Linked DNA regions of Homo sapiens: regions 1, 2 and 3 are each linked to region 4. Evidence: fine-mapped expression QTL. A gene starts in region 4. Each other region holds a variant in brackets. All regions are shown on one strand. Distances are from middle to middle.

Evidence for each region.
Region 1: its variant is fine-mapped to the expression of COG5 in left ventricle (GTEx, PIP 0.92).
Region 2: its variant is fine-mapped to the expression of COG5 in lymphoblastoid cells (TwinsUK, PIP 0.92).
Region 3: its variant is fine-mapped to the expression of COG5 in Th17 cells (Schmiedel 2018, PIP 0.95).

Annotation. Positions count from the first base shown.
Region 1 is chr7:107,396,845-107,401,998 of GRCh38, forward strand. The region is part of intron 7 of COG5 (component of oligomeric golgi complex 5); the gene reads right to left. Among named protein-coding and RNA genes, the nearest start is that of GPR22, 71 kb to the right of the region's middle. The variant T/C (reference allele first, on the strand shown) is at 2,777.
Region 2 is chr7:107,440,241-107,445,394 of GRCh38, forward strand. All of the region lies in intron 6 of COG5 (component of oligomeric golgi complex 5), which reads right to left. Among named protein-coding and RNA genes, the nearest start is that of GPR22, 27 kb to the right of the region's middle. The variant TA/T (reference allele first, on the strand shown) is at 2,403.
Region 3 is chr7:107,431,026-107,436,179 of GRCh38, forward strand. The region is part of intron 6 of COG5 (component of oligomeric golgi complex 5); the gene reads right to left. Among named protein-coding and RNA genes, the nearest start is that of GPR22, 36 kb to the right of the region's middle. The variant G/C (reference allele first, on the strand shown) is at 3,045.
Region 4 is chr7:107,561,864-107,567,017 of GRCh38, forward strand. COG5 (component of oligomeric golgi complex 5) reads right to left here and starts at 2,057. Exons shown (of 22, transcript NM_006348.5): 1 at 1,940-2,057. The coding sequence starts at 2,033. DUS4L-BCAP29 (DUS4L-BCAP29 readthrough) reads left to right here and starts at 2,108. Exons shown (of 13, transcript NR_163941.2): 1 at 2,108-2,346; 2 at 2,725-2,813. It overlaps DUS4L (dihydrouridine synthase 4 like), which reads left to right and starts at 2,108. Exons shown (of 8, transcript NM_181581.3): 1 at 2,108-2,346; 2 at 2,725-2,813. RefSeq lists silencers at 1,936-2,146, 2,185-2,284 and enhancers at 1,985-2,104, 2,635-3,834.

The sequences.
Region 1 (5,154 bases), 170 kb before region 4:
TTTATTCAACAATAAAATGAATTTTATAGGAAAATGGAATAATGACAAATTAATGTGGCAAGCCATAAAAACATAGCTTATTTTTAAATATAATAAAATGTAAAGTCATTCTGTGCTTTACCAAAGATATTTATGGCAAGCATTATGTATTAGCTATTGCCCAAAACTACTTTCTTCTTTTTTCTTGATAAAAACCTAATTTTCTCAGGCAATGGCTGATAAGTAGCCTGAGCCGATGTTGACAATTCTGTTCCTCTTTGCCAGACACTTGTTTTCACAGTCTTCTTGATAGCTAGGCTGGGCATGTGACTCAAATCTGGCCAGTGAGACATAAGGACATGTTGGCTTAGGCAATTTGGGGAAGGATATTATAACAACACCTTTTGACTCACAACTGGCTCTGCCCCACCTCTGTACCTTGAACACAGACATAATGGCTACCGGCATGACAGCTATCTTGTGACCATGATGGGACAAGCAAAAGCACACTAAGGATGATGGAATGGAAAAAAGAAAGGCCTGAATCCTTGTTGAATAGTTGAAACAATGTTAGCACCACCTACACCCAGTCAAATCTGTTGGTGTAAGCCACTATTAATCTAGCTTGCTGTTAACAGTTCATACAGCCTCATCCAGCACCATCATTGATTGAAAGACAATATATAAAAAAATACATGGGCCCATAACAATAATTTTTAACAGATGAAAAACAAAAGAATAAAATCACATCTCATCTGCTACCTTTGGTGGTGACTACTGTATCAACTCATTACTCTATAAAGTGGTAATGACAGTGAAATTTCTAAGTATTTATATATCATTTTCAAAAGAAACTGCAGTTCAGGGTAACCAAATATGCACAGTTGATGAGTTAAAGTTCTTTACAAAATAATCGCAGCTAGTAAACACAAGGAATAACAAAAATAGAAAATCACACTTTCATAATCCCTAAGTAATTTAAGAAAAAGATTTAGGCAGAAATCGTTGATATTAAAACCATTATGGGAAAGACTGACAGGAAATTAAATAACCTCAAAACGCAAAGGTATCCACAAATTACAATGAAGGATTAAATGAAAGAAAAAAAAAGGTCTTTTTCAACAAAAGGTGCTCAAAAAACTGACTTTCTCTATGGAAAAAAAATAATTTTGCACTGTACATAAAAATTAAAATGTAAAATTCTAAAACCTCTAAAAGAAAACATGAGACAAAAACTTTGTAACCTTAGGTAGGCAAAAATTTCTTTCATAATATACAAAAGAAAACATGGATAAACTAGACTTTATCAAAACAAAAAATTTTGCTTTTCAAAAAGACAATATCAAGGGAGGAAAAGACAGCATTATTCATAATAAACAAAAGCAGTCTACCAACTTATCAAGACACAAGCAAAATGTATATATCCATAGAACTGAATATTATTCATCAATGAAAAACAATGGACTATTTATACATACAATCAGGAGTTCCCAACGCCCCTGGGCTGCTGACCAGTAAGAGTCGGTGGCTGTTAGGAACTGGGCCACACAGCAGGAGGTGAGCGGCAGGGCAGTGAGCATTATAACCTGAGCTCTGCCTCCTGTCAGATCAGCAGCAGCGTTCGATTCTCATAGGAGTGCGAACCCTATTGCTAACTGCACACGCGAGGGACATAGGTTGTGTGCTCCTTATGAGAATCTAATGCTGATGATCTGAGGCGAACAGTTCATCCCAAAACCACCACCTCTGCCCCCACATGTGTGGAAAAACTGTCTTCCATGAAACCAGTCCCTGGTGTCAAAAAGGCTGGGGATCACTGCATACAACAAAATGGATCATTCTAAATAAAAGATTGTGCTAAGTGAAGAAGCTAGATACACAAGATTACCTGTCATATGACTGTATTTATATAAAATTTTCAGAAAAAAACTAAGAAGACAGAAATTATAATCTATCAAAATTAGTAATTGCCTGGGTTTGGGGGTAGGAGGAGGAACTGACTACAAACAAGCATGAAGGAACTTTTGTATGATGATGGCAATATTCCAAAACTGGTTATGAGATGGTTGCACATCTGTATAAATTTACTAAAACTTGGCTGGGCAAGGTGGCTCACACCTGTAATCCCAGCACTTTGGGAGGCCGAAGCAGGGAGATCACCTGAGGTCAGGAGTTCAAGACCAACCCTGCCAACATAGTAAAACCACGTCTCTACTAAAAATATAAAAATTAGCTAGGTGTGGTGGCATGTGCCTGTAGCCCCAGCTACTCGGAAGTCTGAGGCAGGAAAATTGCTTGATTCCAGGAGATGGAGGTTGCAGTGAGTCGAGATCGTGCCACTGCATTCCAACCTGGGTGACAGAGCGAGACTCTGTCTGAAAAAAAAAGTTAAAATAAATAAATAAGTTTACTAAAACTCATCAAACTATACATTAAAAGTGCATGATAACAGAAAAAAAGGAAAGACACAGAAGAAAATATTTATGATATGGTTTGGCAGTGACCCCACCCAAATCTCATCTTGAATTGTAATCCTCATACTCCCCATGTGTAGAGGGAGGAACCTGGTGGGAGGTGATTGGATCATGGGGGTGGTTTTCCCACTTGCTGTTCTCATGATAGTGAGTGAGTTTTCACCAGACTTGATGGTTTTATAATGGGCTCTTTCCCCTTAGCTCCACACACACTCCTCTCTCTTGCCTGCCACCATGTAAGACATGCCTCATCCCCTTCTGCCATGATTATACGTTTCCTGAGGCCTCCCCAGTTCTGCGGAAATATGAGTCAATTAAACCTC[T/C]TTTCTTTATAAATTACCCAGTCGTGGGTACGTCTTTATAGCAGTGTGAAAACCGACTAATTCAATTTACAATGCAAAATTTGATAGAAGACTTACATCCAGAATGTAATAAAAATTCTTACAACTCAGTAATGAGAAGACAACAAACCCTTCAAAAATTGAACAAAAACCTTCACTATTAAGCAGTTAAAAAGTTTGTCACATCAGTAGTTATTAAGAAAATGCACATAAAAAGTACGAGAACCTCCTACACACCCACTAAAATGGCTAAAATTAAAAAGACTGCTAACATCAAATGTTGGCAACAATCTGGAGGAACCAGAACCCTCAACTACGGATGTGGAAATGTAAACTAATAGAACCACTTCAGAAAACTGGTATTCTCTTTAAAAAGTAAACATAATAGTCTTTGCAAAAATCTAACCTTTTTTTTTTGCCTTAGGTATTAACCTAACAAATGAAAATATAAGCTGAAACTAAGACTTGTACTTGAGTGTTAATGCAGCTTTATTTACAATAGTCTTAAAGTAGAAATAACCTAAATGCTCATCAATAGGTGAACGTATAAAGATACTTCCATAAGTAATGACATAATAAAAGAGGAACAAATTATCAATGCACATAACATGCATGAATCTCAAAATAATTATGTTGAATGTATAAAGCCAGATAAGAGGAAGAGCACACTGTATAACTCTAATTATGTAAAACCATGGAAATGCAAATTAATCTATAAAGACAAAAAGTTGCTGCCTGTAATTTTTCTGAATTACAAAATAAAATTCTAGTATTTACTACTATAATAACACTCCAGCACAAGAGTGTTTAAATTAAGTAAAATCATATAGATTTATACAAGTACAAACACAATTTTGAGAAATTTTTGAGAAGCAGAAAGCAATTACACATAGACTAGAGTGACTACCAAATTTTAATCAAAGAGCAGTAACAGAATTCTATATGAAATACAATAAATTTAGTCCGTTATTGAAAAATTATTCACATGAATAACTGAAATGAAATGCATTCAGTGAACTGGAAAACTATGGGAAGTAATAACACCAAAATACCCTAAGTCTAAAAGCAGACAGTTAATTAGATGTAAGTCCACACTGCAAGATGGCAATAAAATAAAATAATAAAGTAGCCAATGTTATTGTGGATTGTTCACAACAAGAGAATTTGTCAAAGAATATGAAAATAACATGACTGCATATAGAAACTAGAATAAAAGTCATACTTTACATTTGGTGTAAAACAAAAGCATACAGAAATGCCGTATGGTAATTGACACATCGTAAAAGAGGAAAGGGTAGACAGAGAGAAAAAGAGTAGGAGAAAAGAAAAGATGAAAGTATCTGCCAAGAAAATCAATTATTTAAAGCAGGGATCAGCATATTTTTTCTTTAAAGTGCAATACAGCAAATAGTTTAGGCTTTGCACACTACGTATGCTGTTTGTTTTTGCTTTTTTCCAACCATTTAAAAATATAAAAATAATTCTTAGCACTGCGGCAACATAAAAAAACAGGCCACGGGCTGTAGTTTACCAACCCATGATTTTGGGTGTTATGTAAGAGTTCAAATTAATTTCCATTCAAATTTAAGGATAAAATAAAAAGGACATGTCACACAACTAACATTAAGCTTTAGAGAAAAAAAATTTAAATGATTAGTTTTAAAATATCCTTTTAAATTATAAAAGCTATGACGGTACATATTATGTAACTATTATTAATAATGATATACAATGTTATCTCTAAAAAGAAATTGCCGAAGAGTAACTTTTAAAATTATTATTTATACATGTCATAAAGTTTATTTAATTGAATACCAATGTACTCCACATCAGGTCTCCATTAAATCTAATGAAAGCTATAGTGATGGGAACAAACAGACAAATATATGGTGAAACAACAGCAAATTATCATTTGAAGGTCATAAAGGAAATACGCGAGCTCTTACTACATTCATTCTTTCAAGTTGTTTACTGTGTGCCAAGGAACAAGTTTTGAACAAGAGGGGAAAAATTACTGAAACTCTAGTTAGTGGTAAAAACAATACTGGGACCAAATATACAAAGGAGTTTACACAGGCCCAAATGATGGGCTCTGTTGTATAATCCATGAGACAAGTCAGAAAAACAGCTAAATATATAAAAGCTGTACCTTTTAAAGCTAGGCAAATGGTGTTTGTTGGGTCATAAGGGAAGGAAAACATCCCAAAACAATTGCTTGCTGCCTGCAGAACTACTATCGCAAACTACAAAAGGAATCACTGTGTTCAACTTTAAGAGGACCTTCTTTTTGAAGCTTAAGATAATGCTTAACTTCCATAGAGCTCACTGAACACAATGCATTTGAACTAGTATCCTTGCTG
Region 2 (5,154 bases), 120 kb before region 4:
GGAGAACTTCAGTATGTATTTGTTTGAATGAATTAATTACCATAAGTTTATTCTGGTCTTAATTCTCAACACCTCAGCAGAAATCAGTAAAATAACTACAACTTTCAGCAGCTATAGGATAGTTTAGTTTTGGTTGTTTTTCTTGGTTAAAAAAAAAAAGCTGAGAGGGATGTTGTAATATAATGAAAAATAAATATTTCATCTTTGTCCCAAATATTGTATCAGGTTCCTGGCACAGCCCCTAAAATCCTTGGAATCTCTGGACTAATAAGACGGTCTTTTGCATGCTAATAGAATGATGGTGGCCACTAGACAGCTTCAGGATGAAGGCTGGTCACCAGAAAGATCAATGCATGATTAGAGGATTGGAATTTTCAATCCCACCCCACACCAACTTCTGGGGAGGGAAAAGAGGCTGAAAACTGAGTCAATCACCAATGGCTAATGATTTAATCAATCATCGTTATGTAATGGAACCTCCATAAAAACCCCTAACCACAGGGTTCAGAGAAATTCTGAGTTGATGAATACATCAAGGTGCTGAGAGGTCAACCCATGGGAGAGGGAAGTGAAGTTTTGTGCCCCTTCCCCCATACTATGCTCTATATATCTTTTCTATTTGGCTGTTCCTGAGTTGTATCCTTTATTTTAAAACAACAACAACAAACAGTAATAATAAGTTAAGCACTTTTCTGAGCTCTGTGAGTTGTTCTAAAGAATTATCAATCCCAGGCCGGGCGTGGTGGCTCATGCCTGTAATCCCAGCACTTTGGGAGGCTGAGGTGGGTGGATCATGAGGTCAGGAGATCGAGACCATCCTGTCTAACACAGTGAAACCCCGTCTCTACTAAAAATACAAAAAAAATTAGCCGGGCATGGTGGCGGGAGCCTGTAATCCCAGCTACTCAGGAGGCTGAGGCAGGAGAATGGCTTGAACCCAGGGGGGCAAAGGTTGCAGTGAGCCGAGATCGCGCCACTGCACTCCAACCTGGGCAACAGAGTGAGACTCCGTCTCAAAAAAAAAAAAAAAAAAAAAAGAATTACCAATCCTGAGGAGGGAGTTGTGGGAAACCCCTTAATCTACAGCAGGTAGATGAGAAATACTACTGATAACCTGGGACTTATAACTGCCATCTGCAGTGGGAACAATCTTAGGGGATTGAGTCCTTAACTTGTCTCCATTCTTTGTTTTTGTCGTTTATGCCTTTTTAGCCCTTCACTGTCATTTTAGTGAACATAAAGGAGAGAGCAGAAATAAAGGTGTGCATTCAATCCAATGTTTGACCTGTAATCCAGAGCTTACATTTTAGTCAAACTAGAAGATTATTCCCCTGACTCCAAGTGTATGCACCTTCCCAATCTCCAAATAGCCCAATAAAATCTTATCTTTCAAAACTCAGTTCAAGTGCCAGCTCCACATAACATATTTTCTAACCTTCCAAATTGTAAATAACTTATCCATCTTCTGAATTTTCACAGCACATTACTTGTATCTCTTCTGGCATTTACTTAGACCATATGTGCTAAATTTTAATGACTAATGCTCAAAAATCTCCTCCACTGCTCAAAGTTATTCACTTCACTAAAAGAGTTTAAATTCTATCAATCAGGGATTTATTTAATAAGTCACATTTTAAAATAGAAATATTCTTCAAAATAATAAACCTATTGGTATGCATTAGTTTAGCAATGCTCTTTTCCTTCTAGCCCAAACTATGATCCATGAACTGAGCAAATATGTTATCTAAAAGGTAAGGAAAGAAATCTTACACAATTTCAAGAACCAAGCATCTGGTGATGTGGTTTGGCTCTGTGGCCCCACCCAAATCTCATATTGAATTGTCATCTTCAATGTTGGAGGAGGGGCCTGGTGGGAGGTGGCTGGATCATGTTGGCAGACATCCCCCCCTGTTCTTGTGATAGTCAGTGAGTTCTCAAGAGATTTGGCTGTTTAAAAGTGTGCAGCACTTTCCCCTTGGGCTTGCTCTCTTCCTTTTGCCAGCCATGTAAGACATGCTTGCTTCCCCTTTGCCTTCCACCATGATTATAAGTCTCCTGAGGCTTCCCTAGAAGCAGAAGAATGTACAGCCTGCAGAACCAGGAGCTAATTAAATCTCCTTATCAATTACCCATTCTCAGGGAGTTCTTTATATTAATAGTAATGTGAGAACAGACTAATACATCTGGCCTTGACAAAAGAGAAAGCTTGATATGGCTGTATGTGTCAGGAGTAACCCACAGGTTTTTTGTTGTTTTTTTTTTTTAAATACTTATGCACTAAAGGTAAACATCAGCCCAACAGTATGTCAACCATGTTCCCTCCCTACTTTCACATATATGCCTCTGGCTACATGTTACCTTCTGGAAATACAGTCTCATCTGAGGTTTAAATCAATTTCACC[TA/T]AAAAAAAAAAAAAAAAGTCTATACGAGAAACTTGTAGCATGTAATCTGTCACCAAGAGAGATAATTTAGGGTTGCAGACTCTTTGGGTAGATGGCAGACCCAATAATACGCTATAATAGATGTGTTTCAGAGAATACAAATACAAGATTTTAAAAGCTGGAAAAAGAAACACCAGAAAGAAAGAACAAAATTTAGAGATACAGTCTGGAATCTACTGTAATAAAATAGCTGACCTAGCAGTATAACTCTCCAGTTCCTTAATTTATACATCCTAATCTCTTTCCAAGCTTGAGAGGAGTCTATAATAATGTTTAAAAGATGCAACATCAAGGGTTTTCCCTTGCTGCAGGTCCATGAAAATAGGATGTTATATCTCTCAAATTGTATTACCTTTAAACTAAAATAAAATTACTTCAGAAAAGACAATTCACAGAAAAAGAGAAAATATTTGCAGAACCCAAATGTCTGTCAGCTGATGAAAAGAAAAACAAAAGGTGGTATATCCATACATGGTATATTATCTGGCAATTACAAAGAATGAAGAACTGACACATGCTACAATGTGAAAGAACCCTGAAAATATATACTAAGTGAAAGAGCCCGGCATAAAAGATCATATATTATATTATCCCATTTATATGAAATATCCACAATAGTCAAACCTGTGAAACAGAATATTTGTTCTAGAATATTAGTTGCCTAGGACTGCATGGTTTGGGGAGGAAAGGAGAGTGACTGTTAATAGGTATGAAGTGGTTTCGGGGAATAATAAAAATCTACTAAAATTAGTTTATGGCTACAATTGCACAACTCTCTGGATATACTAAAAGCCATTGAATTGCACAAGTTATAATGGGTGAATTACATGATATGTTAATTATATCTTAATAAAGCTGTCAAAAAATACCTCAGGCCAAAATAATATCTCTAATGTAATGAAGTATTATGATAGAGGAGAGACTTTAAATTATGCTGCTAATAAAAACTAAAAATGTAAATGACTTTGCTGACAGCCCAGAAATATTTTTTTTGTTAAAATCCTAGTCTTAATTTATGGTGGACTCAATCTCTTCCTCTATCAACATAGTTTAGAATTTTTCCTCATGTTTCTGTGCCATGAAGGACTTATGCCAACTGGCATACTTATGTTCCTATCCATTCCACTCACAGTCTCTCCTACAGCCAAATTGATATTATATATTTCATATATTCTCTACCGTCTTCTAGGTGAGCTATAAATGAGATCTCTAGTAAGAGACACAGAAAGCAGGGAAAGCACTGGACTGATTTGTTTGTAGGAATCTACAGATTCTGCACAAATTAAATATTTCAGATTCAGTTACCTTAACAAAAATGAATTAGACGCCTACCTCAAATAATCCTAATGGACTGACAGTTGAAAGACATAGACTTACACAGGAACAGTTCCATCAGAGTAAATATGTGTAGAAAACTGGGCACTTATCTCTCTGTTGTTTCTTAATCTTCAAAACGGGGATGATGAATTAACTGGTCTCTCTATGTCCCTCTCAGTTCTATAAGTCTCTATATTCTATATTATCCTCTAGTCTAGCTAATACTACCACAATCTCCTATCCTCAGTAAACTGGCTGGTTGCAGGATAGAACAGCAAATTAATCATATAATTTATTTTTACAATAGAGTCTAAATTATTCAGTATTATTTTTACAGAGTTTAAATTATTCAAGTCCATCTTATCATCGCTCAGAGCAATAATTAAAAGTAAAAAGTTAGCCATGAAAAGTTGCACAGGCCAAATGGTTCAGGATTTTATAAGCTGAAAGATACCTGCAGTTTTCTTACACTGTTTTCGCCACTCCAACCCTGCTTTTCAGAATTATACCTGTTCTTTCACCCCCTACTTTATTTAATGAAACTTGTTCTAATTCTTCAAACAATATGGTTTATTTTGAAACTTCATAGCACATTGTTAATATCTTTTTGAATACTGATCATATTAAAGTTATGTTTATACTTCTCTTAGTTTTACATATCCCAAATCATCAAATACTATATCATAAACTCTAAAGAGCAAGGACTATGCCTCTCCTGTAATAAAAGAATAGCGATTTTCACATAAGAAACACATCAAAATTGAATTGAAGTTGAGTAACACAACTCTTTTGGATGACCAAAAATACAATTTAAAAAAGCATCAGTCTTAAAGAGTACTTCTTTTTGGATTGTGACACACATACCCTCATAATTTCTTATAACTGAAACTAATAAGCAGAAATGTAGGGCAAGCGTAGTGGCTCATGCCTGTAATCCTAGCACTTTGGGAGGCCAAGGCGGGGGAACTGTTTGAACCCAGGAGTTTGAGACCACCCTGGGCAACATAGCAAAACCCTGTCTCTACAAAAAATACCAGTGGTGACAGGCACTGGTAGTCCCAGCAACTTGGAAAGCTGAGATAGGAGTATCTCAGGAGCTTCCAGGAGCCCAGGAGTTCCTGAGCCCAGGAGCTCGAAGCTGCAGTGAGCCGTGATTAGGCCACTGCACTCCAGCCTGGGCAACACAGCAAGACCCTGTCTCAAAAAAAAATGTTGTAGAAATGTAGCTAATAAATATTAGTGGAGTTACAAAAACACACTCTTCCTAGGTCTTTGTTAAATTTTTACTTAAAACCATACACATTTCTAAAGGTTTAAGTAAGAGAGAATAGCATAATTCCTCAAGATACAATATCCTCAACTAAAATATTCCTGAAAAGATTCTTCAACTAAACT
Region 3 (5,154 bases), 130 kb before region 4:
CCAAAAACAAACAAACAGAAAACTAACTTACAGTGTTCCGAAGGAACCAGCTCTGCTGACATTTTGATTTTAGTCCCTTAAAACTCATTTCACACTTCTAATCTCCAGATTTGTAAAAAAATAAATCTGTATTGTTTTAAGCCATCAAATTTGTGGTAATTTGTTACAGCATCCCTAATGAACTAATACACCCAATACATCCTAAGTGTGTTTGCACATAACAACAGAGTTTGATATAAATGTAGCAAAAATAAAAAAGAATGAAATTTGAAAATCTACAATTATGTCAAATAGTTTTATATCCTTTTATAAATAATTGATAAAACAGGCAGACAAAAAATCAGTAAAGATATCTATAGAGGGAGATAACACAAACATGGCAAAGGTTTTACAACTGGCAAATCTAGGTTATGGGTAAGGGGTGTTTATTTTACTATTCTTTCAACTTTTCTCTAATTTAAAACTTTTTAAAATAAAAAGATGGGGAAAATCACTGAAGTATAGAGAATATATGAAAGATAATCTATTTTTTATTTGGGGCATCATCAAACTCTATCATCTTACTATTAGATTTTATTATTTACTAGAAAAATCCTATTTGCCACATTGATTTTCTTTTTAATTTTTTTAGACAGGGTCTCGTTCTGTCACCCAGGCTGGATTGCAATGGCACAAACATAGCTCACTGTGGTCTCAACTTCCCAAGCTCAAGCCTCAGGATACTGAGGCTCAACTTCCTCTCACCTCAGCCTCCAACGTAGCTGGGACCACAGGCATGCACCACCACACCTAGCTAATTTTTTTATTTTTTGTAGAGACAATGTCTCACTTTGTTGCCTAGGCTGGTCTAGAACTCCTGAGTTCAAACAATCTGCCTGCCCTCAGCCTCCCAAAGTGCTAAGATTAAAGGTACGAACCTGCCCAATCAACAATGACTTTTAAATAAAGGTCAGACTGCAAATACAGAGCCTAAAGAACTGCTATTTTAAACAGGAAGTGTGTGTGTGTGTTTGTGTGTGTGTGCATGAACATTTTATTGTAAAAATATCATGAAAGAAGAGAGAATGATCCTTTGTACCCATTACTGAGTTTCAACAATTACCATCATTTTGCCATTCTTATTTTGACCATATCCTATCTCATGTGTTTGAATGCTTTGGCATAAGCATTAAATCTTAAGTACAAAAAGAATAATCAAAAAGAGTATGACAATAATGACCAAGTGAAAAGACCATAATGTTCTATAAAAATAACTGCTCTGTAGTAAACTAAAGTTGAAAAAGTAAACACAGAGAGGTCAGACAAAACATTGCTGGGTTAAAATAAAATTCAAACTGATAAAATATGCCAGGCTGCAAAATATTTTGGCAATTCAAGAGTAATTGATATACAAAAGAGAGGGAGTGGAAGTTAACAGGATAGTACCACCTAATCCTCTGAGGACATGAACTTAGGATACTGAAATAAGAACATGACATAAGTACAGACCACAGGAAAATACCATAATGCTTAAAAACTCAAATGCAATCGTTTCAGTGTAAGAATATCACTTAACCAAAAATTACCATTAATATCAAACTGGCCTTATAAGAAAAGCTGCCTCTACATGAAAATAAAGTCTTTTCTACTTAAAAAATTCTAACTAGGAAGAAAAATGGGGATTTCTGAAGTCATATTCTATTTATAGTACATATATTCTACCATGTACTATAAAAAGTCCAGGGATGCATCCATTTTCGCAAAAAAAATTCTACAAAAAATTTTCTATTTTTTTCTATTCATCATAGTACTGGAAGTCCTAGCCAGAACAATTAGGCAAGAAAAGAAATAAAAGGCATCCAAATTGGAAAGGAAGAAGTAAAATTATCTCTGTTCACAGATGACATAATCTTAGATATAGCAAACCTTATAGATTCCACACCAAAAAAAAACTGTAAAAATAAACGAATTTAGCGAAGTTGTAGGATACAAAATCAACACACAACAATCAGTTGCATTTCAGTACACTAACAGTGAACAATCCAAAGAGGAAATTAAGAAAATAATCCCATTTACAATTTTAGCATCAAAAAGAGTAAGACACTTAAGAATAAACTTAGAGAAAATAAAGAGGCAAAAGACATGTATTCTGAACACTACAAAGTATGGCTGAAAGAAATTAAAGACAACACAAATAAATGGAAGATATCCCATGATTTTGAATTGAAAGGCTTAATATTGTTAAGATGTCAATACTACCCAAATTGATCTACAGATTTAATGCAATCCCTATTGAAATCCCAACAGCATTTTGTGTGTGCATGCAGAAACAGAAAAACGCATCCTAAAATTCATATGGAATCTCAAGGGACCCCAAACAGCCAAAACAAAAGATGCAAGTTTCACACCTGCTGGCTTCAAAACATATTACAAAGCTACAATAATAAAAATTGTCTGGTACTGGCATAAAGACAGACATACAGATCAGTGGAATAGAGAGCCCAGATATAAACCTTTACGTGTAAGGTCAAATGATTTTTGACAATGGTGCCAACACAATTCAACAGGAAAAGGACAGTGTTTTCAACAAATGGTGGTGGGAAAACTGGATATCCATATGCCAAACAATAAAATGGTACCATTACCTTAGCTATACGCAAAATTTAACTCAAAATGGATCAAAGACCTAAACATAAGAGCTAAAGCTATAAAACTCTTAGAAGAAGCATAAAGGAAAAATTTCATGGCATTGAATCTGGCAATTTCTCACATATTGACACCAAATCACAGGCAAAAAAAGTTAAAAATAAACTGAACTACATCAAAACGTAAAATTTCCATGTAAATACCACAATTCACAGAGTGAAAAGGCAACCTACAGAATGGGAGAAAATATTTGCAAATAATATTTCTAATAAAGGGTTAGAATATATAAAGAAATCCTACAATTAAGAAACAAAAAAGCAAATAACCTGATTTTTAAATGGGCAAAGAATATAAATAGACATTTCTCTAAAGATGAGAGACAGGTGGCCAACAAGCACATGAAAAGATGTTCAACATCA[G/C]TAATCATTGGACAAATGCAAATCAAAATCACAATGAGATATCACCTCACACCAGTTAGAATGGCCACTATTAAAAAAATACACAAAACAGAAAATAACAACTGTTGGCAAGGATGTAGAAAAATTGGAACCTTTGTGCATTGTGTCTAGAAATGCAAAATGGTGCAGCTGTTACGGAAAACCATATAGACCTTCCTGGAAAAAACTTAAAATTAGAATCACCATATGATACAATAATCCCATTTTGGGGCATACACCCAAAAAAATGGAAAACAAGATCTTAAAGGAATATCTGCATATCCATGTTCACTGCAGCTATTATTCAAAATAGCCAAGAGGTAAAAAGCAACCCAAAAGTCCACTGGCAGAGATAAATGCATAAAGAAAATGTGGTATATACACTGGGTACAGTGTGTACACTGCTTGGACGATGAGTGCACCAAAATCTCAGAAATCACCACTGAAGAACTTATTTGTGTAAGCAAACATCACCTGCTCCCAAAAACCTATTGAAATAAAAAATAAATTAAGAGATAAAATTTTAAAAAAAGATAAAAAGAAAAAGAAAATGTGGCATTATAAACCCAATAGGATATTAGCCTTAAAAATGAACAAAATTGGCTGGGCGCGGTGGCTCACGCCTGTAATCCCAGCACTTTGGGAGGCCAAGGTGGGCGGATCACTAGGTCAGGAGATCAAGACCATCCTGGCTAACACAGTGAAACCCTGTCTCTACTAAAAATACAAAAAATTAGTTGGATGTGGTGGCAAATGCCTGTAGTCCCAGCTACTTGGTAGGCTGAGGGAGGAGAATCGCTTGAACCTGGGAGGCGGAGATTGCAGTGAGCTGAGATCATGCCACTGCACTCCAACCTGGACGACAGAGCGAGACTCCGTCTTAAAAAAAAAAAAAAAGAACAAAATCCTGTCACATATTGCAACACAGATTATGAGGACATTATGCAAAATGAAATAAGTCAGTCACAAATAGACAAACACTGTCTGATTCTACTTTTATGGGTTATCTAAAGTAGTCAAACTCATAGAAACAGAAAGTAGAATGGTGGTTGCCAGCAGGTGGGGGAGAGGAAAATTAAGAGCTGTTAAATAGGTATAGAATTTCCATTTTACAAGGGGAAAAAATTCTGGGAATCTGTTCTACAACAATATAAACATAGTACTAAACTGTGCAGTTAAAAATGACTAAGATGGGAAATTACATGGTATTTGTTTTTTCCACAATTAAAAAAGAAAAACAGAAGATAACAATTGTTGAGGAGTATATAGAAAAACTGAAATCTGGCCAGGCGCGGTGGCTCACACCTGTAATCCCAGCACTTTGGGAGGCCAAGGTAGGTGGATCACTTGAGGTCAGGAATTTGAGACCAGCCTGACCAACATGGTGAAACCTCGTTTCTACTAAAAATACAAAAATTAGCTGGGTGTGGTGGCAGGCACCTGCAATCCTAGCTATTTGGGAGGCTGAGGCACGAGAATTGCTTGAACCCAGGAGGCAAGGGTTGCAGTGAGCCAAGATCGTGCCACTGTACTCCAGCCTGGGCGACAGACACTTTGTCCCAGAAAAAAAAAGAAAAAAGAAAAACTGAAATCCTCATATATCACTGGCAGACATGTAAAATGATGCAGTTTCTGTGGAAAATGGTATGGTTGTTTCTCAAAAGACTAAACATAGAATTACCATATGGTCCACCAATTCTACTTCTATATATACCAAAAGATATTTAACAGGGATTTGAATAGGTATTTGTAAGCCCATATTCATAGCAGCAATATTCACAATAGCCATGAGGTGGAAGCAATTCAAATGTACATTGATGAATGAAGGATAAAGAAAATGTGGTATACATACACAATGGAATACTATTCTGCCATAAAAAAGAATGAAATCACATCATTCGTGGCAACATGGATGAACTTGGAGGATATGATATTAAGTGAAATATGCACAGAAAGAGAAATACCACATGTTCTCACTCATATGTGGGAGCTAATTAAGTGGATCTCATAGAGGTAGAGAATAGACTGGTGATAACCAGACAGAAGTTGGGAAGGATGGGGAGAGGGAAGGATGAAGACAGGTTGGTTATTC
Region 4 (5,154 bases):
TTCTCAGGAGGCTGAGCCAGGAGAATGGCGTGAACCCCGGAGGCAGAGCTTGCAGTGAGCCGAGACTGCGCCACTGCACTCCAGCCTGGGCAACAGCGCGAGACTCCGTCTCAAAAAAAAAAAAGAAAGAAAGAAAGAAAGGAGCAGAGGCTCCACTTCCGTTGCAATTGAAAAGGCAAGGGAAAAAAGGTGCAACAGATGGTTATACGTTGAGGTTAAATTCATAGGTTTGATGGGCAAGAAATGGAGAAAGTTCACATCTGATGGATCCTCTTTTTCTCCCCAGGGAAGCTTAAAGTCATTTGTTGAGCTTGAAGCGAAAGGTTTGAAAAGGGTAAAGAAGATTTAAACAATCACTGTGGAGAATGGCAGAGAACCAAGGAGGAAAATACAGAAGGCAGAACTGAAGAGTATTTACCGTCCAAGAACTGATTACAATTCCTGAAATACATCCTACTGAAACATATATCCAATGTTCCACTGTTCACCTGGGGAAGTCCTGTCTACAGTTTAAAACGTCTCCACCTAGAAAGCCTTTTCTGACATTTCCTAACCAGTTTCCAACCCCCAGTTATCATTCTCCTCTGTATTAATGCTCTACTTTATATGCAATCCTACTGCTATCTTACATCACTATATTACAGCACCTACCTTTATAGTCTACAAGATTATTTCCTCTACTAGATGGTGAACTACTTGAGGGCAAAAATTGCACGTGTATCAGGAGCAACTGCAAATATATCAGGGTCTCTGCCTTGTATCTAAAGTTTAAATTCAGTTTAGCCAAGTTTTAGACAGAGACCCGGTCCTAGAGTTTCCAACATGAAATAGTTCAGAAAACATCATTGCTTTTGACAAAAGTACATAAATTATCATGAAAAGGCACGTAATTCAGGATGACAATAAAATATTTAACAGTCAGAGAAAATAAACAATAATTTGGAACTTTATTTCATTTATTACCCACTTCGGTCTTCAAATGTGTGCATGTGCTTCTAACTGCGATGATGAATTTAAAAAACATTCTGCACCTACTGTATGCAAGATACTGCTATTCACACTGTGGGATATTAAAAAAAGTTTGCAATACAGAAGAGATTAAAACAAGTATACAAATGATTTTAGTACAAGGTAGAATGCGATGGCCACTAGAGAAAAAATTAAGAACAGGTGAGAAGGGCTTTATTTTTATGCTTATAAATGTGAACTTTATTCTGAAGGATAAGAGATTCGGGACATGGTAACTGGATTGACACAACTGAATATGCTTTTCAAGTATATTATATCTAACTTTTCTTATTTTGGGCAACTTCTCTCCAAACTGACTAGCAATAAAATCTGACTGCTAGATTCTGTACAAATGGTTAATCCCAACCTGAACAAATGTCTCAAACCCTCCCCCACGTGTCACTGTAGATAACTGCCTCATAAAGGAGGAAAAAAAAAACCAGCCTGTAAGAGGGGTCACCTGTACAGTCCATTTGTTAAAGGAGTAAGCGTTTCCAGCTCTACTTTAAAACAAGGCCCTATTTCATTATGCGTCTGCCGTCTGTTCTAGAGCTTACACTTTTGAAGAGCTCGAACGCTACACCCCTTCGTCAAGAACTGCGGCAGCAGCCGGTGGCTGCCAACGCGGTCCACAGGGTTTGGGCTCCCGAAACTTCAGGGAAGCTGGAGGCATGGGGGGGGGGGGGGTCGAGTTGAAATGAGGAACACACAGAAACCAAGTGTCCCCAAGACTCCAGAAAAGAGGGAGCCAGTCCCAGAGTAAATAGGTTGGCTAGAACAGTACCCAAGCCAGGGGGCCGGGCGGAGGGGAGTGGTCACGTCCAGACTGGAAAACTTTCTGCAAAGCAACGGGTTGGGTCCACCTCGCTGTCCAGGTGCGGAGCAGCGCAGACCCCCAACCCCACGACCTGGTCAGACCCCGTCTCCTTACCGTCCTGCAGAAGTTCCCGGACTGTAGCTGCAGCCGCTCCAGAGCCTCGAGCTCCGAGGCCAGCTACAGCGACGCTGCCGCCGCCACCTTCCATGTTGGCAGGTGCCGGGTTGATGTCGTCAGCAGCAGAACGGCTCCGCCCAGGTGGTGACGCAGAATCCCGGCGCCGCCCGCCCACCCAGCCCATGGCTCCAGGCCCACCTGGCGAACTGACTCTCAGCCCGCGCCTGGGCTAAGCCTGGCTAGGAGCCGCGCAGGTACTCGAGCAGTGGGCGCCCAGGGTCCGAGTGCTCTGCGCCCAGCGCACCGAGGGAGCCAAGGCCGTCGGGCCGGCGCTTTCAGCTGTCTCTCGCAGCAGCTCAGGGCCGCGCCCCCTGGGCTGGCGTCGTGCCCTAGCCAAGGAGAAGGTGGGCACCGGAACGTGGCCGCAGCGCTTATCTGTGAAGCAAGTATTAAACCTCAGAACAGGGGCCGCGCGGCGTAAGGCAGGAGAGCAGAGCGGAGGTTTCAGGGAGCTTCGTTTGCCCTCCACACTCACAAGAGTCACGCGTTAGTTGCTACACAGCTTTATCTGTTCCACGCCTTGATTGGCACTCCTGGGGTAATAAAAGCCCGCAGGAAATGCTTGGGAAGAAAAGTTGCTGGGGATGAACAGTGAAGAGAATTAGGGAGAGTCGATGAAGAAGGAAGTCTGAACCATAAAAGGACCAATAAAACTCACTGTCTCTACCCTCCTTCCTTCCCATGAGACCTTTGACCTTTTGCCTTTTCTACTTCTTCCTCAGTTTCAGTCACGTGCCAGACTTTTTCTTAATTACAAACTGATAGATGGTCCACATCTCAACTAACAGTATTGACGCTGTAAGAGCATCAGGTTGGTTCCCATTGTATCTTCTTTACTAATACGTTCGCGTTTTTGACCTAGATTTCTTTCTTCTAAGATAAATACTGATAAATTAACAGGGTCAGGCAACCACAAGTATGCAAGACAGTCTTAAGCTTCTTCGCAAAAAGAAGCTGGAAGATGACTTTTTCATTTTGTACAGTAGGTATGTATCCAGGAAACCAATTTTATCCAGTTCCAGAGCTACGTGGTTTTCTACATTCTGTTTCAAAAAGGTGCTATTACTTATCCTGTGCTTATCGCTGTTCTAAGTATTTTATAACTCAATGCATTTCATACTCATAACACCTCAGGTAAGCAAGTCTTATGCTACACTGCATTATGCTCTCTTTGTCTCAGAGGATTTTCCCTAGTATGTAAGATCTTAGTCATGATGGGAATAGGGGTGATTCATTCATTACTTGTGAATTAGGAATTGTTTTTCCTTCCTTGGCTTTATTCCCCCCAGTGGAAGATTTTAGAAGAGTGAGTAATATTCATTCATACAGCGAAAGTTTTGACCCCTCTACTCTGCATGCTCTCATGAGTTTACAAACATAAGACTCAATCCATATTCTAAAAGGAGTTAATAGGTAAGGTAGGAACCCATTTAAACAAACAATTGTACCAGGTGCTTTGGAATCTTTGGATTTACTTATTCCAGTAATTCCAAGCTTAGCTGCACATTGAAATCACCTGAAGAGCTTTAATAAAAACACTGATGCCTGCATCCTGAGCCCAGACGTTTGGATTTAATTGGTCTAGGGTATGGCTTGGGCATGCTAATTCTTAAAAGCTCCTCGGGTCATTGTAGTGTACAACTAAGGTAGAAAGCTACTGATTGTTTTGTTTTGTTGAGTTGGGGTCTAGCTCTGTTACCCAGGCTGGAGTGCAGTGGCAGGATCGTGGCTCACTGCAGCCTCAACCTCCTGGGCTCAAGGGATCCTCCTGCCCAAGCTTCTGGAGTAGTTGGGATCACAGTCGCTTGCTACCACGCCCAGCTGATTTTTATAATTTTTTTAGAGATGGGGGTCTCACTATATTGCCCAAGCTGGTCTCAAACTCCTGGCCTTAAGCAAGCCTCCCACCTTGGCCTCCCAAAATGCTGAGTTTACAGGTGTGAGCCCAGTCCCCTGAAACCTACTGATTTATTCTTTCAGCAAATAAATATTGAGGCCTTCTGTATGCCATTTACTATGACTGCAGGAGTGGATAAAAATGAAGTAATTCTTGCTAAAATCACTAATGACCTTGTTGCCATTGCGCTTTATTTTTGCCTTACTTTGATGTTTAAGATACCTATCCCCTCCTTCCTTCATAATGGTCTCTCTCGTTTTCTGAGTATCACTCTTTAGGTTTATTCCTCCCAGCTCCAAAGTTCATCTTCAGTCTCTTTTGCTCTCCCCTTTTCCTCTGTTACTTAAATATTGGTGCTTCCAGCGGTTTCTTGCAAGATCCTGACATCCTTAAGTACCTTGGCTATTTTTAATTTCAACTCCTTGCCTAAAGGTTAAAGACTCTAAAGTTTGAGCAATTAGACCATTCTAAAGTTGGCCCATATCTGATTCTTTTTTTTGTTGTTGTTATTTTCTGCTTCATTTTTCCTTCATACATACCTGTTTCTAAGTTACTGAGGCCAAGGACTGGAATATGAAAAGTAGCCAACACTGTGAAATAGTAGGATTTTAAGTATAGCAAATGTAAAACATTTACAAACTCCATAATTTCATCACTCGTACCTGTACCTCTTGGGGTATAAAAGTGATTTACAATGCAATTGTAGAATTATAATTGAAATTTTCACTAGATAATATCACATTAAAATTTTTAAAAATAATTAACGTTTGTTTATCTTCTGATTCACAGACAGAACAGGATTCAAGAATTACAATAAAAGCACCAGCATATCTTTTGAAACACTGACTACTTAAGAGTTGCTCTATTAATGCCATTTAACTTTCCTGAATAAAACAAGATATTTCCAAATGCCAGTCGAGTATCATATATAAAATAATTCAAACCAAATTTCTTGGCTTACCAATCCCAACAAAGTAACATGTAAAAAATTTTTAAATAACATGAAAACTTACAACATGGTAAACTAGGGAAAAAAAAAAAATCTCGTTTTCTGCATCTTGTGTTTCCACAACTATCTTGGGTAGTTTTCCACATCTATTTATCTTACAAATAGAGGCAGCATTCTATAGTATCATATTGGATACTGTGAAAATAAGCTATTAATAAAAAAATTTCTGAGCCCACAAGCCTGATAAAAAATATATGTTGTTGGCAGTTGAAATTGTTAGAATGGAATTAATATAGTGAAAACATA